6 linked regions of the Homo sapiens genome follow. The protein of the gene in region 4 purifies or fractionates together with the protein of the main gene of each other region. This does not show direct contact. Each region holds a gene or a part of one and is shown on either strand. Other genes may lie near its edges.

Region 1 (5,048 bases), about 53 Mb from region 4:
ACAGCGTTGTGGGAGGCAGCAGCCACAGAGTCAGTAACCGGAAGAACTAGGAGGGCGGGCTGTGGCCCAGGTAATTGAACTCTTGGCCAGCTGCCAGCAGCCTCAGACCATTTGCAGCCCCTCCTTCTCAAGGCAGTGGCTTAGCTTCGGGAGGAGAGAGGGCAGGTGGCCCAGATCAACAAGGCTGCCTCTGCCCCATTGAGCTGGCAGTTATTCACACTCTCCATCACTTCCCTACTGGATCCTGTGACCCAGAGGTGGGAAAAAAGGGGAATTAAACCCATGACCACAGACTCATGGCCCAGAATATACTTTGTGATCGTCATTTGGGTGATTGCCATAAATAATGTTTTTTCATTTAATACTGTAAAAATTGAAAAATAGAGTAAGTCTGCAGAATTGAGGCATAGAATTTCCCTTGGGTTTTTATTGTAAACCTGATCTGGCCAATCATTAACCAAGGACAACATGACAGGAAGTGTGTGGACAGGGGCTGGGGGGAAGGGCATCATGTCGTAAGTTTTTTTTCTTTTTTTTGAGACAGAGTCTTACTCTATCACCCAGGCTGGAGTGCAATAGCACAATCTCAGCTCACTGCAACCTCTACCTCCTGGGTTCAAGCGATTCTCCTGCCTCAGCCTCTCTGGTAGCTGGGATTACAGGTGTCCACCACCATGCCCTGCTAACTTTTATATTTTTAGTAGAGACGGGGTTTCACCATGTTGGCCAGGCTGGTCTCGAACTCCTGCCCTCAAGTGATCCACCCACCTCAGCCTCCCAAAGTGCTGGGATTACAGGCATGAGTCACTGTGCCCAGGCTTTTTTTTTTTTTTTTTTTTTTTTAATGTAGTAGATTTCTTGGCACAATCAAATAAATAATTATTATTCTGACTTTGTTTTTTTAAGTTTAAAATTGATTGTAGAAAACATAGATAGCAAAAAGAAGGAAATTAAACTCTTATCCATAATTCTCCTCATAATTCTCCTGGGGATAACCACGATGAATACTTTTGTGTACATACATCCTCCCGGGCTTTTTGAAATCAAGTATGAGATTGTACTACATATACTTTTTTGGTAGCCCATTCTACTCACTTACTATGTCCTGGGAATTTTCACCCACTGTAGAATATTCTTCTGCACCAGCCTACATTGTATGTCTGTCCACGGTATGCATGCACTACAATTTACTGGACACATAGGGTGTTTCTAATACTCTGACCAATATCCTTTAAGATTGCTGTGTTCATACCTACAATTATTTTCACAGGCTCAATTCTAAGAAGTGGCATTTCTATGTGAAAACATTTTTAAGGCAAAGATGCAATTTTAAAGTAACCATGGTAGCCTACTATTTTGACCTAACAGAAGTATACTGTTGATCAAATGTTGGAATGTTCCAGAAAAATTGTCAGAATTATAAAACCGATACTATCACCACCGTCCGTCTCCTTATCATGGTCATTACATTCGTTTACTACTTGCATGAGTATTAATTTTCAGTGATAAATCGTTCCAAACTGGATAACTGAACACTATAACCATAACCGTAATAACGAGTTATTGCTAACATTTTAGCCCCTTAAATCTTTGTAGCCATTCTATAGGTAATATTATCATTTGTGTTTTTCAGATGATATAAGTGAGCCACAAGGAGATTATGTAATTTGTCCAGAGTCATACAGCTGAGCCAGGATGCAAACCCAGGTGGTCAGGCTACAGGAACAGCCAGGCTGCACCACATTATAAATTCTCCAGTTGCTGTAAGCAGCAGCATCATGCTTGTTAACTATTTTTGAGCATCCACTGTGTTCCAGTGCTTACATATGTTATGTATACAAATACATAACCCTGATAGTAACTGTAAGATGAGGGACCCCAGCCTGACTTTGTTCTAGGCCTTCTAGCCAGTAATTGGTGTGTCCAGAATCTATACCCCAGTCCTGCATGTGGACTCCTCCTCCCCACTGGCCAGGCCTGGAGAGGGGCATCTTAGGAGAGGGCCCCTAGGATGACTTCTAGACACCAACAAATACCCTTCTTTCTCTTCACTCCACTTGTTGGGGAGGGAAAATCAGGCCTGCCAGGCACACATTTTCTCATTTCTTATTTCCTGTTTCATTACATCATTCAGGTCTGTATAAACGTCATGTTCTTGTGACACCTCCCCAACCACCCTATTTTACTGGACAGCCCTCATCCCCTCCCCGGCACTTCCTGCCTCCTTTCCTGGTTTACTTCTTCCCTGACCTTACAGCTGACATACCATAGCCACTGGTTATTTATCCTCACTAAAACAGAAGCTCCCCACCAAAAACAGGAGCTCCATAAGGTGGGCTCTTGTGTGCCACTGTCACCACTGCATCCCCTGAGCCTGCAGTGGTGCTTGGCACGAGTAGGTGGTCAGTGAATAGTTCTTGAATGAATGATTGGCTCTTCTATGAATTTGATCTTTGAAAAACTAAAGAGCTGACCCAAGAAGAGACATAGTAGCATTGTCTTCTGTTGGCCCAGAGAAGTGGGTAGCCATAAGCTTTTAGAAGGAATGTGAATTTGCCTTTCCTACTCCTCACTCACCTTTTTGTCCCAAAGGTGTCTGAAAACCTTGTGCAGCGAGATGGTGACTTCCTAGTTCGTGACTCTCTGTCCAGCCCTGGGAACTTTGTCCTGACCTGTCAGTGGAAGAACCTCGCTCAGCACTTCAAAATCAACCGGACAGTTCTGCGACTCAGCGAGGCCTACAGCCGCGTGCAGTACCAGTTCGAGATGGAGAGCTTCGACTCCATCCCCGGCCTGGTGCGCTGCTACGTGGGCAACCGCCGGCCCATCTCCCAGCAGAGTGGCGCCATCATCTTCCAGCCCATCAACAGGACGGTGCCTCTGCGGTGCCTGGAGGAGCATTATGGCACCTCCCCAGGCCAGGCCCGGGAGGGCAGCCTCACCAAGGGAAGGCCGGATGTGGCCAAGAGGCTGAGCCTCACCATGGGTGGCGTCCAGGCCCGAGAGCAGAATTTGCCCAGGGGAAACCTCCTCAGGTAGGTCAGGGCCTCCTCTGCAGGACTATGAGGGGCGCCGGGGTGCCCAAGGTTAGTTAGGCAGGTGAAGAATTCATCATGGAACAAAGAAATAAAAGATGTTAATAGGAATGCCGACTGTTCGCAGAATAGCTGTCACGAGGCAGTGAACAATTAGCTCCCAGCTGAGCAGTGTCAGCAATGAATGGTACAGGAGCTGAGGAAGAATTTCGGGGGGTGCTGATGGGGATACCTTGTGAAGGGGGTAGACTTAGGCTGGTCTGATGGCTGGGGGAAATTTGGATAGATGCTGCAAAGGGCTGGGGGTGTTCCAGGTGGGAGGCATAGCATGGGCATAAGTGTGGGGACAGAAAATGGTATGAAGAGCTTGAAGTGAATGTGCTGGTAGGGCTGGAACAAAGGGTCTGTGCAAGGGACCCGTAGCAGTGGGCTTAGGGAGATAGCCCCAGCCAGATCATGGGGGCCTTAATGCCAGGTGCAGGGCTTTAAGGGAGCTGTACAGACTCAGCATAGCGAACACGGTGTCCTAAGAATAGAAATGGACAGTGATGTACCGGGGGTGAGGAGAGAGACAGGAACAGGAAACCCAGTTAGTGAGTCATGGAGGGCCCCGGCTGCAGGAGTGGAGTGGAGGGAGAGTCAAGAGATGTAGGAGCCTGGCCTCCCAGGACTCTTCTTCACGTGGTAGAGTCAGAGGAGGGCACATTGGAGACCACAGGAGTGACCAGGAGGGAGGGGACTTTGGAGGATAAAACACACTTTTTCATCTGAGCTGGAAGACTATGGGCTTGTTGAGTGCCACAGTCCAGCAGCAGTTTTGGGGTCCAGGAGGGGAGTTAGAGCTGAAAACTTAAATTAGGGCTTGGTCCACCTGGAAAGGGTGGTTCACTTGGTGAGAACAGATGAGATTTCTAAGATAGGAGATGCAGAGAACATGGGGTCTGTAGTCTGAATCTCAGGGAATGGGGGAAGAGAAAGATTCAGGGCACTTGGTGGAAAATCAAGGCTTCAAAACCTCACTGATCCTAAGCACCCAGCTGTCAAATGTCAGCGACGTTGGCCTGCATTTGTATAGGGCCCGTCTTTCACAGAGCTCAGAGTCTTTGTGCATATTATCTAAAAGCACTGGGAAAGGAAAGGAGGGAAAAGGCAGGCATCGGGGACATAGATCCAGTCCAGCCCCTCAGTCACACAGCAGCCCTGACCCGGCTCCCAGCTTCTAATCTTATGCACGTAAACCAACATATTTTATTCTACTCACTGGTTTTTTTTTTTGGCGGGGGGGTCCATGAGGAAATGTCATAAACTGTCATTTCTATACTGCAAAACTTAGGGAGGAAAATACAGGACTCTGTGTGGAATGTAAATGACAGCTGTGTGCTGCCTGGAGGCTCCGGCACATGCTAGTCAGCATCTGGCTGGGGACCCAGTAGCCAGGCACAAATGCCGGCTCCACATTGGGCAACTTTTCAACCATGGGCAAGCGACTTGACCTTCCTGGGCCTCACCTTCTTCATCTAGAAAGATGGAGCTTGTGAGGTGTACATGATTTAATATATGCAAAGTGCTCAGAACAGTGCAGGCACAGAGGAGGTGCTAGGGAAGTGCTCATGATAATTATTATCTGGAGGAGAGTAGAATGTCAGACTCAGACCCAGCACAGTGGCTCACAGCTGTAATCCCAGCACTTTGGGAGGCTAAGGTGGGCAGATTGCCTGAGCTTCAGAGTTCAAGACCAGCTTGGGCAACATGGCACAACCCTGTCTCTACAAAAAATATGAAAATTAATATAAGGAGCTCAAACAACTCTATAGGAAAAACTCTAATAATCTGATTTTTAAAATGGGCAAAAGATTTGCTCTTTTGAGAAATGAGTATTTCTCAAAAGAAGACATACAAATGGGCTGGGCATGGTGGCTCACGCCTGTAATCCCAACAATTTGGGAGGCCGAGGCAGGTGGATTACCTGAGTTCAGGAGTTCAAGACCAACCTGGCCAACATGGCAAAACCCC
Region 2 (4,821 bases), on a different chromosome or scaffold from region 4:
TGTAGCTTTTCCTTTCATAATCCTGACGGTTGCCCAGAGGCCTCTCCGTTCCTCCAGGCAGACACAAATTTTTGTTGGCTTATGTAAATATAGGTTCACGTATAATACAAATATGTATAATACAAATGTTGATTTCATTTCTTTTACCTTTTTGAAGAACTTAACAAAGTTAAGTAGGGGAGATTTGAATATTGTGGCCATCGAGTAGCTCTCCAGACACTTGATTGACTTAATATGTATTTGATATAAATGGTTTTTTGTAATTGTCTTCAGCATTTTATACAAAGGCTAGTTTATAGAGGGAGGAGCGTAAATTTATACCATTGATATACAGATAATGTGTATCTGGAGGAAGAGAATTTAAGGCTATTGAAAGAAGTGGTATCTGTATCTGTTGCTTGTATTTGTGTGTTGGTGATATTAGTTGCTACCGCTCTCAACTGCAAGTCTCTTGACTGATCACCACTTTTTCTTCTGCTTCTCCTGGTTTGCTCAGCAGAACTGTTATTTTTAAACCAATATTTCTCAAACTTACCAAGCTTTTGACTAATCTTTGAAGAGCCTCAGCAAAGGCTGCCCTGAAGCTCTGTGCCTGTTAATATAGGAAAGGCTTTATGAAGCTCTACAGGAGAGGCCCTGGTTGAGCCCGTCGTTTGCGTGGTGATGGCATCTAGGCATGTGAGCACGTCTCAGGCCATGGCAAGAAAACAGTGGTCTGGCTGTTGTTCTGCACCCTTCTCCCCACACTTTGCTGTGGAACTCCTCTCTCGGTCGCCTCACTTCTCCCCTTTGCCTGTGTACTTCTGAAAGTACTTTTTATCCTTGGTCTTCTTCCTCTCTCAGTATCTTATCTACTCTGCCAAATGCAAATTCCACCCTCTGCAGATAACTCTGAAGCTTCCATCCTTTCCCCCTGACATCTTGCTTCACTTCCAACCTGAATTTCCAGCTGGTTGTGAGATGGTTCTATCTGAACACCCAGTCAGCACTTTGAAGTCCAGTTTTCTAGAAATGAGCTCTTTGCTTCCTCACTCCTCTCCCTCTCTGTTCTGTCCCTGAGAATCAGCACCTCCTATGAGCTTCTCTGTTTCCAGTAACAGAACCACAGTGTCTTGGTTTTATAGGGCAAATCCTCAGTGTCATCTTCAACACTTCTCCCTTCTGTCACCTCTAGGTTTGAAGTGGGGTTCTGTACCGTCTGCTCCCATGATGCCTCTTAAGTCCACCTCTTCCTTTCACTTCCACAGCTGTGGCTTTCTTTAAGGCTCTCCTGTAGCCTTTTGCATTCTGATGCCCACTGGGGGTCCTGCCAGTCAATTCAATTCCGTTCTGACACTAACTACTCAGAGACAGCACAGACCCCACAGGTCAAGGGCAGATCCTTCAATTCTGACACTAACTGCCTGGAGTTAGCATCAGACCTAAAAGTTAAAGGGTGAGATCACCAACAAGACTCCTCTTATTTCAGACACCAGCTGCACGTGAGGTCCCCAGGCCACCCATACTTGTGTCCAGCTTGACTACAAATTTGGAGCTTCCCACAACGCCCCCACTGATGTGTGTCACCCGGCACATCAACGTCTTCACCAATCAGGAAGCTTCACTGAGCCATGATGTCTGGGATTTTTATAGCGTTTTTGTTCAGTAGGCATGATGGCTTAAACCACTGGCCACGTGTTTGATCCCAACCTCTAGCGCCTGGAGGTGGAGGAAGGGAGTGAGGCCGAAAGCTCCAACCCTCTAATTATGTGCTTGGTCTCCCAGGCACGGCCAGCCCCTTCCTTGAAACCCAGCGCGGACTACAGGTTACTGTATTAGCACAAGCTCAGGTATGGTGAGAAGGGGCTCGTTATAAATAACAAGACACTCCTGTCACTCAGGAAATTCCAAGAGTTTTGGAGCTCTGTGCCTGGAACTGAGTAGCAAAGACCAGATATATTTGTTATTTCATCACACCTTCCTCTGTACTCTTCAGAGCCTGCTACCTGGTCTCCCTCCAACTAGGTCTGTTCTTTTTTTTGAGGCAGAGTCTTATTCTGTTGCCCAAGCTGGAGTGCAGTGGCACGATTTTGGCTTACTCCAACCTCTGCCTCCCAGGCTCAAGCAATTGTCCTGCCTCAGCCTGCTGAGTAGCTGGGACTACAGGCACCTGCCACCACGCCCAGCTAATTTTTGTATTTTTAGTAGAGACAGGGCTTTGCCATGTTGGCCAGGCTGGTCTCGAACTGCTGACCTCAGGTGATTTGCCCACCTCGGCCTCCCAAAGTGCTGGGATTACATAAGGTGTGAGCCACCACATCTGGCCAACTAGGTCTGTTCTATATCAGCTACAAGATAAATCTCTCAACATTACCACTCCTTCCCAGAAAAGGCAGTCGCTTCCCGTGGCCTAACAGAGGAAAGGTGAACTCTTCAGCCTGGCTTTTGTGGCCATTCAAAAACAAACTTCAGCTGATCCAGCTAGAGCTGGCCTCATCTTCTCTCCTTCCTGCCCCATGCTGAGGGGGCTGGCGCCTGCTTTTCTTTGTTTCAGCTTGTCCTGAAGCACCTGCTGCCATCTGTACCTTTTCAGCCCATCTGCATTTCGAGGCCCACCTGCGGTGCCTGCTCCCCCTGCCGTATCTCCCGATCCTCACTGCCATCTGTGCTGCCAGCATTGGGCTCTTTCTCCTTTGAGAATTCTTTGCACTTCATTGTACTCCATGCTCAGTGCTGCTCACCGTCTGCTTTATAATACAGGCCACGGTGTGCTTCGCTCAGCCCCTGAAATAGATGGTAGTCACTCTGGGAGCAAGAACTGTTTGATTTCTTTTTGTTGCTCTGGCAGTATCTGGCAAGGGTCTTGTACAAGATCTTGATCGAATTTATGGAAGTGATTAGCCACACTGTAGATAACGATGGCTTTCTGCTTGCAGAAACAAGTGGAAGCCGGTGTCTGTGTTACCATGGAGATGGTGAAAGATGCCTTGGACCAGCTTCGAGGCGCGGTGATGATTGTTTACCCCATGGGGTTGCCACCGTATGATCCCATCCGCATGGAGTTTGAAAATAAGGAAGACTTGTCGGGAACACAGGTACGTAGTTTGTGAGTGGGTACTCTGGAGGTTGAGTTCCTGGCCCCCAAAGCCCTTAAGATTTGATGCCCCTCTTCTGGATGTAGTGTTTTGCTCCCTACACAGCTTTCAGGTTTGCTATGCCCTGCTTCAGAGCAGAGTTCTGAATTCAGGAGCAGCCCCTGAGAGTGGGTACTCATGAGTGAGGGGTTTGGCCCCACACACAGGAGGCAGTGGACGCAGTTTGTGAGGCCGCTCATCAGGAGTGACTGCAAACATTTCCACTGTCTTTGGCTGCTAGGAAGCCAGCTACCTAATTTCTTCCTATTTCTACCCAAATGCGTCAGTCCCTTTGCATGGAAATTTGTGTTTCTAGTCTTACCTGTTGCTTCATGTTATTTTCTGACCCTCATGTTCCATTTTCCTTGGGTTTTCTCACTTCTTATCCTATTGGACAATATTCTTTGTCTAAGCCATGTTAAATAAATGAAATATGCAGAAGTAAACAGGCAGCCCCTTTATACCTCGATTTAAACACCCAGCACGATGCCAGTGCCCTTCCCTGGCAGTGGCCTACAGATCTGTCTAAGACGAACTATATGGATCAAGGTGCAAATGAGATAGGATCTCCCTGTTGTCCAGAGGAGGAAGTTAACTGAGTCAGGGCATGAGTGGAAACTTAACAGGGAAGGTACTAAAGTCAGCAAGGACTTAGAGTGAGGTGCGGGAGTCAGGCCTCCCATGGTGAGCACGGGGAGAAATCTGTCCCCTGCCCCCTGCTGGGAGGGGCTCAGCTGGGCTCTGCCCCCTGGGTGGGAACACACAGTCAAGCCATTCTTACGACTGGCCCCAGGCAGGGCTCAACGTCATTAAAGAGGCAGAGGCGCAGCTGTGGTGGGCAGCCAAGGAGCTGAGAAGAACGAAGAAGCTTTCAGACTACGTGGGGAAGAATGAAAAAACCAAAATTATCGCCAAGATTCAGCAAGTAAGTACTTTTTGCTTTAATGTGTCAGTAGTTTTTGTTATTTCCCTTCAAACTGATAAAAATGTACAGTGAATCCGAAAGATTTAAACTACTGGTACAAATATTTTAATCTTATTGGCTCGGGTTTAAACTAAAAATATCCTCTTCCTGCACACCAACAAAAACTGGAAGAAAATATGGATTGAGTACCAATATCTAGAGTTTGTTTTAATATGTGGGGGAGAGGAAATATACTATGTTAATTTCAAGCGTAAAAATAGGGCTGCAAGTAAACAGATATGTTCCTTGAAATGTAAAATTTCGCCCGTCACTGATTTCAGGCTTTTTCAAACTGCTGATGCTGTGTACAGGAGGGGGAGGAGGAAAGGTTCGAGACCTTTGAAGGACATCGTGTAGCGCTGTAACCTGAGGGGCCGCCTTGGTTTTGTGGGTGCTCCTACGTCACTAGGCTGTGATTTTGGGGAAATGGGGCCCTCCACCTTATGTAGATCCAGAGTCCGTGGCTCTGAGCATCCTCCCTTTCCCACTGGACCTGCCTGCAGTGTCTGCCTTGGGAATGGTCAAGACAGAGATGGTATCGTGCAGCCTCTGGTCTCCACACAGTGAGAGTCCAGGGCTCAGGGCTGCTCAAGACCAAGGCTTCCCTTGATGCTTCACTTCGGGTGATCAGACATGGGGGACCTGTTTATCTTTAGTAGCCGGCAAAGGCAATCGTAAAACATTTGTTGTAACTTCAGGATTGTCACTCTAAGAACACCTTAATCCACAATTTGCTCTGCTCTC
Region 3 (5,048 bases), on a different chromosome or scaffold from region 4:
GCAGTGCAGTGGTGTGATCTTGGCTCACTGCAACCTCCGCCTCCTGGGTTCAAATGATTCTCCTGCCTCAGCCTCCCAAGTAGCTGGGATTACAGGCATGCACCACCACGTCTGGCTAATTTTTTTGTATTTTTAGTAGAGATGAGGTTTCACCATGTTGGTCAGGCTGGTCTTGAACTCCTGACCTTGTGATCCGCCTGCTTTGGCCTCGCAAAGTGCTGGGATTATAGGCCTGAGCCACCGTGCCCGGCCATTTTTTATTTTTTGTTTTTTTTGTTTTTTTTGTTTTTTTGAGAAAGGGTCTCCCTGTTGTTTAGGCTGGAGGGCAGTTGTGTAATCATGGCTCACTGCAGCCTCAACCTCATGGACTCAGGCAGTCCTCCCAACTCAGCTTCCCAAAGTGCTGAGATTACAGGCATGAGCCATCACACCTGGCCTGATTTTTTGTTTTTTTTAGAGACAGGGTCTTGCTCTTAAACACAGGCTAGAGTGCAGTGGTGGAATCATAGCTTACTGTAACCTCACACTCCTGGGCTCAGGTGATCCTCTCACTTCAGCCTCCCAAGTAGCTAGGAATACAGGCATGCATCACCACACCAGGCCAATTTTTTAATATTTATGTGGAGATGGTCTCACTGTGTTGCACTGGCTGGTCTCAAACTCCTGGCCTCAAGGGATCCTCCCACCTCAGCCTCCCAAAGTGCTGGGATTACGGGCATGAGCCATCACACCAGGCCACTTTGTCTGTTAATTCGAGACTGTAAATATCCTTTTTCCACTTACACTTTCCATAATTTTAGCATCCACCAGTGGTTCCTTTACTTTAACTATTTTCTGGCCAGGCGTGGTGGTTCTCATGCCAGTATTCCCAGCACTTTGGGAGGCTGAGGCTGGCAGATCACTTGAGGTCAGGAGTTCGAGACCAGCCTGACCATGGTGAAACCCAGTCTCTACTAAAAATACAAAAACTTAGCCAGGCATGGTGGCACACGCCTGTAATCCCAGCTACTTGAGAGGCTGAGACAGGAGAATCGCTTGAACCCAGGAGGAGGAAGTTGCAGTGAGCTGAGATCACGCCACTGCACTCCACCCTAGGCGACAGAGCGAGACCCTGTCTCAAAAAAAAAAAAAAAATATGGCCAGGCGTGGTGGCTCACGCCTGTAATCCCAGCACTTTGGGAGGCTGCGGCAGGTGGATCACCCAAGGTCAGGAGTTCGAGACCAGCCTGGCCAACGTAATGAAACCCCATCTTTACTACAAGTACAAAAATTAGCCGGGTTTGGTGGTGGGTGCCTGTAATCCCAGCTACTCAGGAGGCTGAGGCAGGAGAATCACTTGAACCCAGGAGGCAGAGGTTGCAGTGAGCCGAGATTGTGCCATTGCACTCCAGGTGGATGACAAGAGCGAAACTCTGTCTCAAAAAAAAAAATATATATATATATGTAATATATATATTTTATATAAAAATGTGTAATATATTTTATATAAAAATATGTTATATATGTTATATATATATTTTATATTTTTTTAGACAGACACACACATATAAAATAACTATTTTCTGACGTTGAAATTTTCGACAATTTTCACGTTTTCCTAATTCCACTGAGTAATTTGTGAGTAATTGTTTACTTTTTTTTTTCTTTAAATGTTTTCAGGTATTTGACTGGAATGGTTGACAAAAGGACGCTTGAAAAGTATGAAAGAGAAGCTAAAGAGAAAAACAGAGAAACTTGGTATAGTAAACTTTTATGACACTTATAAATTACTTTTAAGGAGACGATGCCCACTTAGTGCTTTTGGAGCCTGTTAAAATATAAATTGTTGAAGTCTAAAATCGTATCACAACAAAGGAAATTTCCCCTCTCCTCATAATACACAGTAGATGAGTTCCTAATGCTTTAATAACTTACACAGAGAAATTTGGAAACAATCCATATATCTGGTGATAGACTTGTTGAAAATACTATAAACCATCCATTTAATTGGGTGATTTTGCAACCACTGAAAACTTACATTTACATAATTTATAGTAACCATGAATAGAACTTGCGTTGTGGTGGCAGTTGGGGGGAAGCAGGAAACATCCCTGTACTTAAGATATGACCATTATATAAATAAATGCTGGAAATAAAATGGAATGGAATTATTGACAGTGGTTGCCTTTGAATGGTGAGACAGTCAACTTTTTTGTTTTCTAACCTTGTTACTTTTATTTTTAAAAAGTTAGCAAGCCTTACCTCAATGGGATATTGACAGTCATTTTTTTAAAATAAAATTATATTCCTCTAAAATAAGCGGGAGAAATGCTAGTCAGTGTTGTTATAAAAAATTGAGGACATGCTGTGAAGATGATGAGGTAAGCTAAATTAATGCCCACTATTACGGATGGTTTGAATTTATATGAATTTTTGCCTGGCAGTGTGATATTGAAGCAATTTTTAGCAAGTAACCATTGCTCCCACATGGTGCGTTAGTGGCTTTCAGTTTTCAAAAATATCTGAGGACAGTTATTTTTTATTTTATTAAAAAGTTTTAGTCCTGGCACAGTGGCTTAAGCCTGTAATCTCAGCACTTTGGGAGGCCAAGACGGGCGGATCACGAGGTCAGGAGATCGAGACCATCCTGGCTAACATGGTGAAACCCCGTCTCTACTAAAAATACAAAAAATTAGCTGGGCAAGGTGGCAGGCACCTGTAGTCCCAGCTACTTGGAAGGCTGAGGCAGGAGAATGGCGTGAACCCGGGAGGCGGAGGTTGCAGTGAGCCGAGATTGCACCACTGCACTCCAGCCTGGGCAACAGAGTGAGACACCATGTCAAAAAAAAAAAAAGAAAAAAGGAAAACAACTTTTATTGGGCCAGGCGCGGTGACTCAAGCCTGTAATCTCAGCACTTTGGGAGGCAAGGCAGGCAGATCACACCTGAGGTCAGGAGTTCGAGACCACCCTGGCCAATATGGTGAAACCCTGTCTCTACTAAAACTACAAAAATGGCCGGGCACAGTGTCTCACGCCTGTAATCCCAGCGCTTTGGGAGGCCGAGGCAGGCGGATCACCTGAGGTCAGGAGTTCGAGACCAGCCTGACCAACATGGAGAAACCCTGTCTCTACTAAAAATACAAAATTAGCTGGGCATGGTGGCGCATGCTCTAATCCCAGCTACTCGGGGGGCTGAGGCAGGAGAATCACTTGAACCTGGGAGGCGGAGGTTGCGGTGAGCCGAGATGGTGCTGCTGCACTCCAGCCTGGGCAACAAGAGCTAAACTCCATCTCAAAAAATATATATACAAAAAGTAGCCGGGCGTGGTGGTGGGCACCTGTAATCCCAGCTACTTGGGAGGCTGAGGCAGGAGAATAGCTGGAACCTGGGAAGCAGAGGTTGCAGTGAGCCGAGATGGTGCCACTGCACTCCAACCTGGCCAGAGCAAGACTCCCATCTCCAAAAAAAAAAAAAAAAAAAAAAAAAAAGAAGAAGAGGGGTGGGGGTGCCGGGCACGACCTAGGCTCTGTTGCCCAGGCTGGAGTGTAGTGGCTCCATCTCCACTCACTGCAAGCTCCACCTCCTGGGTTCACACCATTCTCCTGCTTCAGCCTCCCAAGTAGCTGGGACTACAGGCACCCGCCACCACGCCTGGCTAATTTTTTGTATTTTTAGTAGAGACAGGGTTTCACCGTGTTAGCTACGATGGTCTCAATCTCCTGACCTTGTGATCTGCCTGCCTCAGCCTCCTAGAATGCTGAAATTACAGGCGTGAGCCACAGCATCCATCCAAAAAAGTTTTATTATTACCCTTTAACTCTCAAGACAGCCATTATTTGTGTTGTATTTTGTGCCATGTGAGTATAAAAATGAAGTAATAAGGGAGCTCATTATCACTTAACACACAGTGATATTGGCATTTGTAGTTAGTCTTTCTGTGTAGTCAACTTGCCATAAAGTTCTAGATGGTATAATTGACTGCGTTTATATAAAAGCTCTAAGGGTTTGAATCAAAATAATACATTCTTTCAGTTTTATTTTATTTATTTATTTTTTTGAGACGGAGTCTCACTGTGTCACCAGGCTGGAGTGCAGTGGCGCGATCTCAGCTCACTGCAACCTCCGCCTCCTGGGTTCAAGCGATTCTCCTGCCTCAGCCTCCCGAGTAGCTGGGACTACAGGCGCCCGCCACCATGCCCAGCTAATTTTTGTATTTTTAGTAGAGATGGGGTCTCACCATGTTGGCCAGGATGGTCTCAATCTCTTGACCTCAGGTGATCCGCCTGCCTTGGCCTCCCAAAGTGCTTGGATTACAAGCATGAGCCACTGCACCTAGCCCTTTTTTTTTTTTTTTGAGAGACAGAGTCTCCCTCTGTTGCCCAGCCTGGAGTGCGATGGCACGATCTTGGCTCACTGCAACCTCTACCTCCCAGCTTCAAGCGATTGTCCTGCCTCAGCTTTCGAAATAGCTGTGACTACAGGTGTGCACCACTATGCCCAACTTTTGTATTTTTAGTAGAGATGAGGTTTCATCATATTAGCCAGGCTAGTCTCGAACTCCTGACCTCAGGTGATCTGCCAGCCTCGGCCTCCCAAAGTGCTGGGATTACAGGCGTGAGCCACTGCGCCCAGCCCTATTCTTTCAATTTCTTTGTTTTCTTTTGAGACGGAGCCTTGCTCTGTCGCCCAGGCTGGAGTGCAATGGCACGGTCTTGGCTCGCTGCAACCTCCTCCTCCCAGGTTCAAGCGATTCTCCTGCCTCAGTCTCCTAAGTACTACAGGTGGGCTCCTCCACACCCAGCTAATTTTTGTATTTTCGGTAGAGACAGGGCTTCACCATGTTGGTCAGGCTGGTGTCGAACCCCTGACCTTGTGATCCGCCGCCTTGGCCTCCCAAAGTGCTCAGATTACAGATGTGAGCCACCGCACCCGGCTCAATTTTCATTTCACCAATCTTGTTCGTGATTTAGGTGTTGTGTGTCATCCATTATATCTTTAATGGTGAAGAATATCCTAAAAACTCTGATGTTCTTAGGAATATTGTTCTTTTTTTAAAAATTATTTCAG
Region 4 (5,709 bases):
CATAAGGAGAGAATGTTCCTGCATCAATGTTAATGTAGGGGTCAATTTTGATTGAAGTTACATGTAAACCACATGACTTGAGTATTGTGCCCACACTGCTGGCAATGATTCCTTTTCCAATTCCTGATATAACACCACCAGTAACCAGAATGTACTTCATTTTACTCTTTGACCTGGAAGAAGGAAAAATTACAGATGATATAAATGTATCTCAACAAACCAAACTCATCTGGGTTCAAACACTGGCTCTGCCAATTATTAGCTATGAACCCTCTTGAAGCCTCAGTTTCTCTGTCACAGGACTTCAGAAGGTTCTCGTCAGGTTTAAATAGGATCAAAACAAACATTTCTTGGATCACTGAATGGCTTTAGTCAAATACGTGTAGAAAAACAACTGCTACTCTAATAACACAGCTTTTGTTTAAAGCTTTGACAACTAATAACCTTCAGAGTCAACCTAATAAAACCAGCTCTAAGCTGGCTGATAGAACACTACACCCCAAATGTTTGCTGACATCACTGCCAGACACTGGGATACCAGGCAGGTGCCTCATTATTTTCCCTACATGGGAAAAAAATTCAAACTTGGATAAGTACTCCAGTTCTCCAGGAAATAAATAATGTCTTTGGCTAAACTACAACATATCATCAAGAAAACACAGCTCCTCTAGGTTACAAAAGATAGACTAAAAGGAAAGAACATCAACATTTAAAAGTGGTTGCAGCTAAACCAAAATTCCTTTAATTAAAAGTAGTTCTCTGGCTGGGCATGGTGGCTCATGCCTGTAATCCCAGCACTTTGGGAGGCAGAGCCAGGAGGATCACTTGAGGTCAGGAGTTCGAGACCAGCCTGGCCAATATGGGGAAACCGCATCTCTACTAAAAATACAAAAATTAGCCGGCTGTGATGGCGCACGCCTGTAGTCCCAGTTACTCAGGAGACTGAGGCAGGAGAATCGCTTGAACCCAGGAGACAGAGGTTGCAGTGAGCTGGGATCATGCCACTGCACTCCAGCGTGCGCGACAGAATAAGACTACCTCAAAAAAAAAGAAAAAGTAGTTCTCTTCTATAATTTAACAACAACTTGCTCCTTGTCAGAAATCTCTCCCAGGCATGCAATGAAGAGAGACTGTAAATACTGGGGGAGAGGGACATCAGATAAGAAACCAGTCTGAAGCACATGACGGGCAGAGGACTCAAAGAGAGGGGAGATGAGATTAAATCCAAAAAGCAGTGCCACGGTGGCAGGGAAAGGAGAAATAAGATATAAGGGCAGCAGAGTCAAGATGCAGGTGAAAACAGCATCGACAAGAGGTGAGGAGACCGTGACAGGCTCACCACGGAGGATTTATCACTGGTCCCCAGCTTCAGAGGTCCAGGATCGTCCATTTGGTCAGCAAACCCAAATGTGACCAAAATGAAAAACACAATTAGAAAGTAGCAGAAAATGCTTACTTTGGCATGGTCAGGACATTTTCCTCCTCAGGAACGTTCCATGTGAAGCCAAATTATGATAAAAATAAACTAAGGAACAAGAAAACTAAGGAGTTGTGCTCGAAGCATTCCCCCGCCCCACCCCCTCCCCAGAGCAAGAAAGAACACACTTGGCAGGGAAGGAAGAATGCTCAGAAGTCTTCCCCGCTCCAAAGGCTCTTTGCATCCTCTGCTGCAGCATTTCCAAAAGCATGCTCCCTGGTTTCAACAAAATGCACATGGGATTCTCAAAAAGGGTGTTATGGATATAAATCAGAGAAACGCTGATTAAACCAAGTCATTTAACGCAAGAATCCTGGGAGTGTTTAGCAAGTAAACTCGCACTGTGATCACTGCTATACAGTATGCGGTGTCTCCAAGCTTATCTGACCCTAAGTCTCTCACTTTACAGTTCCTTATTGACACATGAAAATCAGTCTTAGGTACATTTTAGATATGTTCTAACCAGACATATACCTTACTGAGACTATACCCTGGTCTCCCTAAGTTTTGGATGATCCTAGAAATTCCTCTGCCACCGAGTGAGTTACTTCTACAAAAGATTCATCTCATCCAATTACATTTGATTTGTCCCAATTTTACTCTAAGAGTTTAACATCTCTCTTTACGTTCTTTAGTTTCTCTCTTTAGATTCTTGCAGTCTCAGTGCCTGGCAATACATATGCCAGTGTACATAAAGATCAGGCGGGAGGCTCATTCATTCATCCTTATGGGCTACTGACTTACATGACAGCTACTGTGCTTGGGGACTGCAAACATTAATCAGATTTGGGCCCATATCTCAACTTTCTGGCAGTCCAGTTGGAGAGATGAAACATTAACAAATAAATGAGTAATTCAGTGACGGTGGAAGCAGACAGAAAACATGTTTAGACTATAAAGGGGGACGATGAGAGCAGACGCTTTCAGTACCATGGCCATCAGAGGAAGGTGAGACAAGTCCTGGGGGTAGTGGGCGGATCCAGGCGGCTCCTGTTTTGTAGATATGACTTGCAATGGGCCTTGAAGGACTGACTGCACGACTCAGAGCACAGGAAAGGGAACAGGGTGAACAGGCAGGTGCAGGGCAGCTACAGAGAACAGAGGTAAGGCCGTGAGGGGGAAGGCGGGGAAGCAGGGATATACAGTGGAAGATAAACTGGAAAGGTAGGCAAGGGCCAGATCATGTGCAAACTGGCATGCCCAATCTGAACTTAATCCTGAAGGTGACGGAAGGCGCAAGAAGGTTTTCCGGCACAGAAGTAACGTAAATCAAGACGCATCAGAGAAATTCAACAAAGACTGAGGGGGGAAATGCTTTTTCTTTCAATGTTATGAGATGAAGTGCCAGCCCCCATCACTAGTGTGCAGACCTCAATCATGTCACTTGAGCTGCCTGCAACGCGGGTTCTCACCTAGGGGAATGGGGGTGAGAATCTCTGCGCCGCCCGCGTCACAGGGCCGCTGAGGATTCGAAACTGTAACGAGCGTGGACGGAAGGGCGCCACGCAAACGTGGTGAGCTCTATACACCGCCAGCGCCCCGACCCCCGGCCGCCGGGAAGGGAGGAAGCCGTGAGGCCCAAAGGCCAGCCGCGGGGCCCAGGGCCGGCGAGTTCGCAGGCCCCCTCGTCCTACGGCGCGGAGCTGCCGCGCCCAGCCCCGGGCGGCTGAGCCCGCGCCGAGGCCGGAGGCCCGAGGCCCGCACTGCTTGAATGGATGGGCGACTGCCGGGCTTCCTCGCAGACGAAGAGCAAGGGCGGAGGGTGTGGGGGGGGGCGCCGCTCCACTCCCCTACGGCCTTCTCCGTCCGACGAGCCCGGCCGAGCTGATTCGGCGCGGCCCAGCGCGGCAGCGCAGGCCCCGCAGCCTCTGAAGCCGCCCCGCGCCCCGCTTGGCCCCTCTCCCCAGCGCCGCCCGGCCACGAGGCCCGCGCGCGGGAGCCGGCAGCTCGCCGGCCGGGGCGCCCGCCCCACTCCCGTTAGGCACACAGCCCATTGGGCAGGACGCCGAGTCACCTCGCCCCTGATTGGTAGGAGCGACGTCCGTCACCGCGGCGGCGGGGCTATTCGGCGCCGGGCTCAGCTCGCGCCGCTGACTCCTGCGCGGGAGAACAGATCCCCCCCGGGATCCCTGGAGTCAGCCTACCTGCGGCCGGCTTCAGATCCTCCCGTCAGCGACAGAGCTGGGCCGGCGACGCGCGCGGAGCCCCGGACAGCCAGTGAACAACCCCGACCGCATGCGCCCGGCAGTCTTTCACGGAGGCGGGCTCTAGGCTGTGCGCACGCAGAGGTTGGAGGGCGGGCCGGGCCTGGAGGGCGCGGGGCGGGGCGGGGCCTGGAGTGCGCAGGCGCGGGACAGGACCGCTGGGCCGCCTCCGCTGAACTGTGCCGCCGTAGGTTCGAGGCCGGGCGGGTGGTGGCGTGTCTGCCCCTCTGCTTCCGTCCCAGCCTGTGGCCCAAGCTTACTCTCTTGAAGGGGAGGAGGCTGTTTGGGAACTCACGCCTGGCCTATTCGTCACCTGGCCTCGCGTCCTCCCACAGCGGTCTCCTGGAGTTCTGGGCGTCGCCTTCCATCCGATGGTCTTTCACTGTGGGCTCCTGGCGGTGATGCGCCAGCGCATCTCTGCCTCCGGGCGAGGGACGGCGGCAGCGCCACCCTGGCCTCCAAGACGGAAGTGCGGAGGGTCGCGCGGCGTTGGCTCCTCGTCGGCCTCCCTCCTCCCCACACCTGCCCCGAAGGCGGCTGCTTTGGATGGACTAGGATCCCGAAAAGTACGGTTTCATCTAGCTATCGCTCCCTGAGCACCGACTGTGCCACGCACTGTGCTGGGCACCGAGGGACCCTCTCCTCGGACTAACGATGTAGGGAGGCACACTGAGCAGCTCATTACACTTTATGGTTGTTATGGGTGCTTGCTGCAGAGATGCTGGTGCCGGGGCAGTGAGTGCCCAGCGCGGGGACTGACCCAAGTCCGGTGGTGATTGGGAATTCAGGCGGGAAGCCCGCCCTGAAAAAGTAACTTTGAAGCAGAGACCTAAGTAGACGGCAAAGATGGGAAAGGGAGAGGCGGGGATAAGAAAGTGAGACATGCTTGAGCCCAACAGTTCGAGACCAACTTGGGTAACATAGCGAGACCCCGTTTCTTATAAAAATAATAATAGTAGGCCGGGCGCAGTGGCTCACACCTGTAATCCCAACATTTTGGGAGGCCGAGGCAGGCGGATCACAAGGTCAGGAGTTCAAGACCAGCCTCGCCAATATGGTGAAACCCCGTCTCTACTAAAAATACAAAAATTAGCTGGGCGTGGTGGTGGGTGCCTGTAGTCCCAGCTACTCAGGAGGCTGAGGCAGGAGAATAGCTTGAACCTGGGAGGTGGAGGTTGCAGTGAGCCAAGATTGCACCACTGCATTCCAGCCTGGGCGACAGAGCGAGACTCCTTCTCAAAGAATAAATAAATAAAATAAAAATAGTAATAATAATTTTTTTTTAAAAGTGAGGCAGAAGGAAAAGCCTGTGTACAAGCCCAAAGAGGCCGGCACAGCTGAATTGGAAGGCCAGTCTAGCCAAGTCCACAAGGGCCACAGGAAGCGAGATTAACATGAGATTAGGTTGAAGAGTTGGGTAGGGCCATACGGTGAAGAGCATTATAGACCAAGTAAAGGCTTCTCTTTCTCCTAGGGATAGTGGAAAGCTGTAGAAACTTTTGAGAGGCTTTTGACCTTCCTTTGAATAGTGAATATATGTACATGGTTATAATTTTTCCCCAAACACTACACAAGGGTATCCATGAAAAGTAAATCTCTTATTTCTGTACCCCAGTGTTCCTGTTTTGTTCTCTAGAAGCAGTCTGCCACAAGTTCTTAACTATCTTCACTGAAGGAGTTTTAAAAAAAAAGATGTGATGGGATCAGATTTGTGTTTTAGGAAAATCATTGAAGCAGATGGATTCCCAGAAACCAGGTCAGGAGGCTCCTGCAGTGGCCTCTTTTAGAGGCTTCTGGCTCCTTCCAGATCTGGATCACCAGTGCTTCAACCCTGACAACCTGCCCATGCTGCATTCAGCTCCAAATCTAAAAAATGTTTGGAATGCCAGGCATAGTGGCTCACACTTGTGATCCTGACACTTTGGGAGGCTGACACAGGGTGGGAGGATTTCTTGAGTCCAGGAGTTCAAGACCAGCCTAGGCAATATAGTGAGACCCCATCTCTACAAAAAATACAAAAATTAGCTG
Region 5 (5,048 bases), about 31 Mb from region 4:
AGCTGGAGTAAACATACTTTCAGGAGCCAGACTTTGTGGGTTTAAATCCCAGCTTTGCCACTTACTGTGTGATCTTAGACAAGTTACTTAACCTCTCTGAGCCTTGGGTTCATCATCTATAAAACAGAACTAATAAAAGTACCTACTTTACAGGATTATTATGAGATTAAATACTGTATATGAAAAGCACTTAGGCCAGGCGCGGTTGCTCATGCCTGTAATCCTAGCACTTTGGGAGGCCGAGGCAGGTAGATCATTAAGTCGGGAGTTCCAGACCAGACTGGCCAAGATGGTGAAACCCCGTCTCTACTAAAAATACAAAAATTAGCCAGGCACGGTGGCCGGTGCCTGTAGTCCCAGCTACTCGGGAGACTAAGGCAGAGAGTTGCTTGAACCCGGGAGGCGGAGGTTGCTGTGAACCAAGATTGTACTACTGCACGCCAGCCTGTCTCAAAAAAAAAAAAAAAGAAAGAAAGAAAAGCACTTAGGGCTGAGCACAGTGGCTCATGCCTCTAATCCCAGCACTTTGGGAGGCCAAGGCGGGTGGATCATGAGGTCAGGAGTTCGAGACCAGCCTGGTCAACATGGTGAAACCACGTCTCTACTAAAAATACAAAAATTAGCCGGACATGGTGGTGCACGCCTATAATCCCAACTACTCGGGAGGCTGAGGCAGGAAAATCACTTGAACCTGGGAGGCAGAGGTTTCAGTGAGCCGAGATCGCGCCAGTGCACTGCAGCCTGGGTAACAGAGTGAGACCCTGCTACAAAAAAAAAGAAAAGAACACTTAGAACAGAATCAGGCACGTGATGAGTGTTCTGGTAGTGCTAGAAGTGATGATTGTGATTCTAGTTATTACCTACCAGGAGTTCTGCTCAGCTCTGGAGCCATACATACTTGAGATGCAGGGATAGATGTAATTTCCTTACGGTTATTTGTCATTTGCCAAATATTTTATTCTTTTCAGCCTGTGACATTCTGGCCATTGATAAGTCCCTGACACCAGTCACCCTGGTCCTGGCAGAGGATGGCACCATAGTGGATGATGACGATTACTTTCTGTGTCTACCTTCCAATACTAAGTTTGTGGCATTGGCTAGTAATGAGAAATGGGCATACAACAATTCAGGTAAGAAACTCTAGCCATGTATAAAACGGCCTATGCAGTACAGCATCCATCATGATTACTTTCACTGCACAGACAATTGCCATTTGTCTGGCTTTTTAAGCATTTGTTCAACAGATATTTACTGAGCACTTTCTATGTGCCAGACATGGTGCTGAGTCCTGGGGATAAAGATGAATGAGGCCAGGCACGGTGGGCAGATCACCTGAGCTCAGGAGTTTGAGACCAGCCTGGCCAACATGGCGAAAGTCCATCTCTACTGAAAATACAAAAACTAGCTGAGCATGGTGGCAGGCACCTGTAATCCCAGATACTTGGGAGGCTGAGGCGGGAGAATTGCTTGAACCTGGGAGGTGGAGGTTGCAGTGAGCTGAGATTGTGCCACTGCACTCCAGCCTGGGCGACAGAACGAGACTCTGTCTCAAAAAAAAAAAAAAATAGATGAATGAGACATGGGCCCAGTTCTCAACTAACTCATGGACAGACAGCAACTGAAATGCAGCCTGGCAGGGAGCTCAGTGCTGCAGGCTGCAGTCCAGCTGTTGAGGTCTGGATCCTGGCTCTACCATTTACTAACCAGGTGACCTTGTGCAAATTACATAACTTCTCAGTGCCTTGTTGACATAATAATTATAGAACCTGTCCCCTAAGATTGTTGTAAAGATAATATAGTACATATCAAACCAGGGTTTCTCAATGACACTGCTGACATTTGGGGCTGGAGTTGTGAAGAGGATGCTTTGTGTATGATAGGACGTTTAGTAGCATCCTAGATGTTACGAACCTCCCCCCACAACTGTGATAACCAAGAATAAATGACTCCAGATATTGTCAGATGTCTCCTGGGGGGCAAAATTGCTCCCACTTGAGAACCACTGATATGAAGTGTTTAGATCTTACCTGGCACATAGTTAAGGACTCAATAATTGTTACCTGTCCCTGCCATCATCATCATCACAGGAGATAGAAAGGGGACTAACATTGGTGACCAAGGATCAAGAAGTGTCTTGAGAGGGGATTAGTTTTAGGGAGGGACTTAAAAAAAAAAAAAGTGTCCTGAAGTGTGCCACAAAATTGAGGAAGTCATCCTACAGCAGTGGCCCTACCAGCCACCTTTGTGCTCAGGCCTAAGGGACAGCAATCGATGGCTACAGCTCTGCCAGTTAAAGAAGGGACCAATCCCCAAGCACAGAGAAATGCTGGCACAAATGACCGTTTTCGTATAAAAAACAGGACACACCTGGACACACAGAAACCAGAAAGGGAAGTGTGATTGGATTCCTTGTAGGTGTGACCACACATTGGGTTTAAATGGCTTTTTCTATGGAAGAATACAGAGCCGTTGCACACAGAGATAAAGATGAAAGAGGGTCAGGCACGGTGGCTTATGCCTGTAATCCCAGCACTTTGGGAGACCGAGGTGGGCAGATCACTTGAAGTCAGGAGTTTGAGACCAGCCTGGCCAACATGGTGAAAGCCCGTCTCTACTAAAAATACCAAAATTAGCTGGTCATGGTGGTGGGCACCTGTAATCCCAGCTACTTGCAAGGCTGAGGCAGGAGAATCGCTTGAACTCGGGCAGTGGAGGTTGCAGTGAGCCAAGATCGTGCCACTGCACTCCAGCCTGGGCAACAGAGTGAGACTCTGTCTCAAAAAAAAAAAAAATGAAAGAAGAGGGAAAATCAAGGTCCTGGATGGATATTGACCCTCCTGTGAATCCTTGAGATAAGATGCTTCTTTCCCATTGAAATTAATCTAGATCCTCAAGAGGTCTGTGTGTGCTGGGGGAGGAGGTGAAAACAGCACTTCAGGTTGTTCTGTGACTGGCATTTTCTCCCATGTGTCAGATGGAGGTACAGCTTGGATTTCCCAAGAGTCCTTTGATGTAGATGAAACAGACAGCGGGGCAGGGTTGAAGTGGAAGAATGTGGCCAGGCAGCTGAAAGAAGATCTGTCCAGCATCATCCTCCTATCAGAGGAGGACCTCCAGGTAAAGCCTCCTCCACAACCTGCAACAATGTTCATCCAGCCTCTGCCCCCCGCCCCAGCACCTTCTTAGCTTCCATACTTGCCATAGCAATTTCTTTGTTTTAATCTTAATTTTTAAATAATTCTTAAATTACAACTAAGATTTTTCATCTTCTCATTCTCACCTAGAGTAATTTTTCAACCCTCGTCACGAAGCAGAATTACCTGTGGATTTTTTTTTTTTTTTTTTTTTTTTTTTGAGACACAGTCTTACTCTGTCGCCCAGGCTGGAGTGCAGTGGTGCAATCTCAGCTCACTGCAGTCTCCACCTCCCGGGTTCAAGCAATTCTCCTGTCTCAGCGTCCCAGGTAGCTGGAATTACAGGTGCACACCAACACGCCTGGCTAATTTTGGTATTTTTAGTAGAGACAGCGTTTCATCATGTTGGCCAGGCTGCTCCTGAGTTCAAGTGATCCACCTGCCTCAGCCTCCCAAAGTGCTGAGATTATAGGCGTGAGCCACCGTGCCCGGCCAGATTTTTTTTTTAATACAAATGCCTGGGATCCACCCTAAACCTAGTTAGGTGGACGCTGGGGTCAGGGATGCCCTGCTAGAGAATGTAGCGTTGGAGTAGATGGCTTCACATCCCAGCGCTGTCACCACGACTTTGAGCCAGTAGCTTAGCTTCTCTCCTTGTGTTTTCTCTCTAGTAAGATTGGGATAGGCCAGGTGCAGTGGCTCACGCCTGTAATCTCAGCACTTTGGGAGGCCGAGGCGGGCAGATCACGAGGTCAGGAGATCGAGACCATCCTGGCTAACATGGTAAAACCCCATCTCTACTAAAAATACAAAAAATTAGCCGGGCCTGGTGGTGTGCACCTGTACCTGTAGTCCCAGCTACTCGGGATGCTGAGGCAGAAGAATCGCCTGAACCCAGGAGGTGGAGCTTGCAGTGAGCCGAGATCGCACCACTGCACTCCAGCCTGGGTGACAGAGAGAGACTCCATCTCAAAAAGAAAAAAAAGATTGGGATAAAAACAGTATGTTTTCATTCAAAGAAAATTTCTCTTTGAGACAGGGTCTTGCTTTGTCACCCAGTGCAGTGGCATGATCATAGCTCACTGCATCCTCGACTTCCTGGGCTCAAGCCATCCTCCCACCTCAACCTCTCAGGTAGCTGAGACTGTAGGCTTGCACCACCACACTGCGCTATTTTTTCTTTTTTTTTTTTTTTAATTTTTGTAGGCCAGGTGCAGTGGCTTATACCTGTAATCCTAGCATTTTGGGAGGCCAAGGTGAGCAGATTGCCTGAGTTCAGGAGTTTGATGTGGTAAAACCCTATCTCTACAAAAATTAGCTAGGTGTGGTGGCGTGTGCCTGTAGTTCCAGCTACTCAGGAAACTGAGGCAGAAGGATCACTTGAGCCCAGGTGGTCAAGGCTTCAGTGAGCCATGACTATACCACACCAACCTGGGCAACAAAGCAAGACCCTGTCTCAAAAATAAATAAATAAATAAATAAAGCCAGGCGTGGTGGCTCACACCTATAATCCTAGAACTTTGGGAGGCCGGGGCGGGCAGATCACGATGTCAAGAGATCAAGACCATCCTGGCAAACATGGTGAAACCCCGTCTTTACTAAAAATACAGCCGGGCACGGTGGCTTAACGCCTGTAATCCCAGCACTTTGGGAGGCTGAGGAGGGTGGATCACAAGGTCAAGAGTTCAAGACCAGCTTGGCCAAGATGGTGAAATCCCGTCTCTACTAAAAATATAAAAATTAGCCAGGCGTGGCGGCAAGCACCTGTAATCCCAGCTACTCAGGAGGCTGAGGCAGGAGAATCACTTGACCTGGGAGGGGGAGGTAGCAGTGAGCAGAGATCACGCCACTGCATTTTAGCCTGGGAGACAGAGCAAGACTCTGTCTCAAAAAACAAAAAAATTACAAAAATTA
Region 6 (3,500 bases), on a different chromosome or scaffold from region 4:
GGGAAATGTTCCAGGGAAGCAGGGTTCTGGTCAAGTGAAGTCTGGGAAGCATGGCAGGCCTGCTCTGGCCTCCTCTAAGAGGATCTGCACATTTGCATAGTAAAGTTTCCGGGAGATTCTTCCATATGAAATTTAGTTTAACCCAGTGTTACTCATTTTCAATGGGAAACTGCCACCCCCCGCCCCCCCAACATCCTTGTTTGGAAACACTGGTGTGATCCCATTGATTGAAGCTAACTGCCATTTTCCCAGGGGAGAGGAATTGACCTTGAATAGCTAATCTCTTGTGTAGGCATTATAGTTTGTTTTATATAAGTAGGTAATGTGAAGCGTGTGCAGTTCTTAACTGCAGAGCGTGAGCTTATTCTCAAAACTGTCTCCTTCGTACAAGCCCTAGTCAAAGACCCCTGGCAAGCACTGCATAGACACATGAACTCTGACACACTGATGCCAGCTTGCATATAGAATACTGGCTAACAGGCTTCTCTCTGGTGTGTTGTTCATTAGCAGACGCAGTGTTATGCTGAGTATTTGCCAAGATAAGTAAAGTGGTAATTTAGATGGAACATTTTTGGGTCACCTTTTTTTTTCTGCAAAACACTACAAATTCGAGCCCAACTTGTTTTGCTTTGTTAAGGGCCTTTTTTTCTGCCTGTGTATTTGTAAAGGATTTCCTATTTTTGCTGGAGTGTGCATAGTTATGGGCCTCTATTGATTTTATGTGTGCCACAGTGAGCCCCTTTGACAGGGGGTCATGTTATTTTTTAATTATGTGATGAGATGGGCAAGGTAGGAGGGGTTGTGTTGATGGTGAGACAATGTGCTTATATTGATGTGGCAGATAAATGATAATGACACCTCCAAATTTCTCATTTCGCCACAGTCTACTTTTCAGTTTGACATTCTTGTGCTTTGAACCTTTGGAGTTCTTTATTTTTGCCATAATTTTCCTTAAAACGACAGTGATAAACTGGAGTTCATAATGATCAGTAATTTATATGCATTAAAAAAAGTTGCTTTGATGAGATTCAAAGCAGTTCCCTTAATTCAGTTATACTCCTTCCTTCCTTTTTTCCTCTCCCTCTTCTTTCCTCCTTTCTTCCTCTTTCCATTCTTCATTTTTATCGTTTATTCCATTCACATATTTATTGAGTGCCTGCTGTGGGCACAGTGATTTTTTTACTTCTTGCAATGAAGCCTCAGAAAAAAGACATGAATATGAGCCCTAAGGAGATGATGGTCTAATGGGAAACCGGAAAGGCGGATATAAATAGCCCTAATACAGTGGATGTTAAGAAACAGATAAGTTATTCTAGAAGTTCAAAGAGGGGTCAGAGGGCTTCAGGGCATCTCAATGAGAGGGATGGGATTGTTATTATCTGTAGGTCACATGTGTGGAGGGTACAGTTGACTCTCCCCAAGAGCATAATGACTATTGTATGTTGTGAATTAAGAATATAAGCTTTGAAGTTAGTAGGACCAAGGTTGGTTTAAAGGATCTGGTTTTTGCTTGGGGATGTTCGGCAAATTTCTTTCTCTAAGCCTCAGATTTTCATATCTGCCAGTGACAATGGTACTATCCACACTCGTTGGGGTACTGTGAAAACTGAATATTATGTACAGCGTTTGGAGCAGGTCTCAGGTTGAATAATTGGCATTTACTATTTTAAGCGCATCCTTGGTATTGCATGTTCTTTTGTATGTAGTAACGCATGGCAATGGAAGCTGTAATGCTGCTGCTACTACTGCTGATGGTGATGAGGATGCTGGTGTCCACAGGTGCTTTCAGTTGTGCTGATGGCGGAGTATGGAAGGCCCAGCTCTAGTATATTGAGCATTTGCTTTGCCACATTATGAGGGAACATTTCAGTTTTAATCTTAAGAGGTCAACTTATATGTCTAGAATATACATTTATTAGGGAAATCAGGATAAATGATCCAGTCTAACATTCTGTTGAGTGTTGAATTAATTTCTGTATTGTAATGTATGTCATATTTTACATACATACATAAAATACACAAAGTTGTGCATGTGTATGTTTGTGTGGTATTTTCCGGGTATCATCTCCATTGCTGATGATAATGCTTTTTCATTTACAGGTCGGCGGAAGCAGAAGTGGGCTGTGGATCCTCAGAACACTGCCTGGAGTAATGACGATTCCAAGTTTGGCCAGCGGATGCTAGAGAAGATGGGGTGGTCTAAAGGAAAGGTATTTTGGAGAAAAGCGGAAAAAAATCTGAGCTATGAAAAGAGATTAGAAATTAGGGGAAAACTTCCTTCTTAGGAGACTGGAAGAAACTTATGCTTTGGATCAGTAAGTGATTTTGATCCCAAATCAAAAATTGTTGTGACCTTATGATGATAAATTAGGATTGGACATAAGTGTCAACTTTCTATCATTTAAGCTGCCATGCTTAGCATCTTTCATAGACATTGCAACTAGGCTACACGCTTTTTCCCTTTCCATTTATTCTTGACTCCAGTAGAGCCTCTGCTGATACCTCTACACTTAAATGGTTCTTGTTGAGGTCTTTAGCGATCTCTAAGTGCCAAATCAGTGGGCCGCTTGTTTTGTTCTCACATTACTTAACTCCTCAGCAGTGCTGGATGTAATTGACTACTCTCTCCTTGAAATACTTCTGTCTTGGCCTCCACAGTGCTATTGTCTCTTCTGCTCTTCTTTTCACCTCACTTGCCACTCCTAAATTTGTTGCTGTCTCTTCTTTCTATAGACTTTTGATTATTAGGGCTCCTTGAGGCTCAACCTCAGGCCCCTTTTTTGCACTTTGCTGCAGTGATCTCATTCATTCCCTTGCCACACTTTGAATTAGCTAAAGTCTGGGAACTGTCATTTTTCTATATTGAGTCCAGTTCTGTCCTCTGAGCTCTAGATTTGTAAATTCAATAGCCTACTTGATATTTCCACTTGAGTAAGCATTTCAAGGGTATCATTTCTATTATAAAACTCTTGATTCCCCCAAATATATTTTTCCCAGGTTTTCCCCATTTTTCATACATGGCACCGTCTGCCACTTACACAAGCCAGAAACCTGACAGTCATGCTTGATTCCTCCGCCCTCTTGCCTCCCGCAGCCCAGTCGTCGTTTTTCTCCAGCCTCCCGCAGCCCCAGTCGTCATTCTTCTCCAGCCTCCCGCACCCCAGTCGTCATTCTTCTCCAGCCTCCCGCACCCCAGTCGTCATTCTTCTCCAGCCTCCCGCACCCCAGTCGTCATTCTTCTCCAGCCTCCCGCACCCCAGTTGTCATTCTTCTCCAGCCTCCCGCACCCCAGTCGTCTCTTCTCCAGCCTCCCGCACCCCAGTCGTCTCTTCTCCATGCAGGGCAGAGCCCTGCTTCAGCCACTGTCATCACTTGAGCTCACTGACTGGTCAGACTCTCAGCTGCCTCCCTTCCTCCCTCCTTTTTCTCCTCTGGCCCATTTGCTGTACAGCAGCCAGAATGATCTTTTAAAATATGGAAATTAGATCATGTCATCCTTA

The links.
Region 1: the proteins of CTPS1 (region 4) and BCAR3 purify together in Homo sapiens (co-immunoprecipitation; one large-scale study listed by IntAct). This does not show direct contact.
Region 2: the proteins of CTPS1 (region 4) and CFAP298 purify together in Homo sapiens (affinity purification with mass spectrometry; one large-scale study listed by BioGRID and IntAct). This does not show direct contact.
Region 3: the proteins of CTPS1 (region 4) and GSPT1 purify together in Homo sapiens (affinity purification with mass spectrometry; one large-scale study listed by BioGRID and IntAct). This does not show direct contact.
Region 5: the proteins of CTPS1 (region 4) and DFFA fractionate together in Homo sapiens (co-fractionation; one large-scale study listed by BioGRID). This does not show direct contact.
Region 6: the proteins of CTPS1 (region 4) and PINX1 purify together in Homo sapiens (co-immunoprecipitation; one large-scale study listed by IntAct). This does not show direct contact.

The regions. Positions count from the first base shown.
Region 1 is NC_000001.11:93,586,964-93,592,011, reverse strand, and holds part of BCAR3 (breast cancer anti-estrogen resistance protein 3), read left to right. Parts: exon of another isoform or gene 1-44; intron 45-844; exon of another isoform or gene 845-2,592; coding exon 2,593-3,035; intron 3,036-5,048. UniProt on the Homo sapiens protein: Acts as an adapter protein downstream of several growth factor receptors to promote cell proliferation, migration, and redistribution of actin fibers.
Region 2 is NC_000021.9:32,602,378-32,607,198, reverse strand, and holds part of CFAP298 (cilia- and flagella-associated protein 298), read left to right. Parts: intron 1-2,915; coding exon 2,916-3,074; intron 3,075-3,906; coding exon 3,907-4,038; coding exon of another isoform or gene 4,039-4,110; exon of another isoform or gene 4,111-4,821. Other genes in the region: CFAP298-TCP10L (uncharacterized protein LOC110091775), read left to right, coding at 2,916-3,074, 3,907-4,038. UniProt on the Homo sapiens protein: Plays a role in motile cilium function, possibly by acting on outer dynein arm assembly. Seems to be important for initiation rather than maintenance of cilium motility.
Region 3 is NC_000016.10:11,887,751-11,892,798, reverse strand, and holds part of GSPT1 (eukaryotic peptide chain release factor GTP-binding subunit ERF3A), read left to right. Parts: intron 1-1,659; coding exon 1,660-1,737; intron 1,738-5,048. UniProt on the Homo sapiens protein: GTPase component of the eRF1-eRF3-GTP ternary complex, a ternary complex that mediates translation termination in response to the termination codons UAA, UAG and UGA.
Region 4 is NC_000001.11:40,977,742-40,983,450, reverse strand, and holds the start of CTPS1 (CTP synthase 1), read right to left. Parts: upstream 3,756-5,709; 5' UTR 3,622-3,755; intron 3,422-3,621; exon of another isoform or gene 2,890-3,421; intron 2,860-2,889; exon of another isoform or gene 1,465-2,859; coding exon of another isoform or gene 1,457-1,464; intron 1,412-1,456; exon of another isoform or gene 1,340-1,411; intron 174-1,339; coding exon of another isoform or gene 161-173; coding exon 1-160. UniProt on the Homo sapiens protein: This enzyme is involved in the de novo synthesis of CTP, a precursor of DNA, RNA and phospholipids. Catalyzes the ATP-dependent amination of UTP to CTP with either L-glutamine or ammonia as a source of nitrogen.
Region 5 is NC_000001.11:10,465,259-10,470,306, reverse strand, and holds part of DFFA (DNA fragmentation factor subunit alpha), read left to right. Parts: intron 1-968; coding exon 969-1,130; intron 1,131-2,974; coding exon 2,975-3,117; intron 3,118-5,048. UniProt on the Homo sapiens protein: Inhibitor of the caspase-activated DNase (DFF40).
Region 6 is NC_000008.11:10,833,376-10,836,875, reverse strand, and holds part of PINX1 (PIN2/TERF1-interacting telomerase inhibitor 1), read left to right. Parts: intron 1-2,100; coding exon 2,101-2,210; intron 2,211-3,500. UniProt on the Homo sapiens protein: Microtubule-binding protein essential for faithful chromosome segregation. Mediates TRF1 and TERT accumulation in nucleolus and enhances TRF1 binding to telomeres. Inhibits telomerase activity. May inhibit cell proliferation and act as tumor suppressor.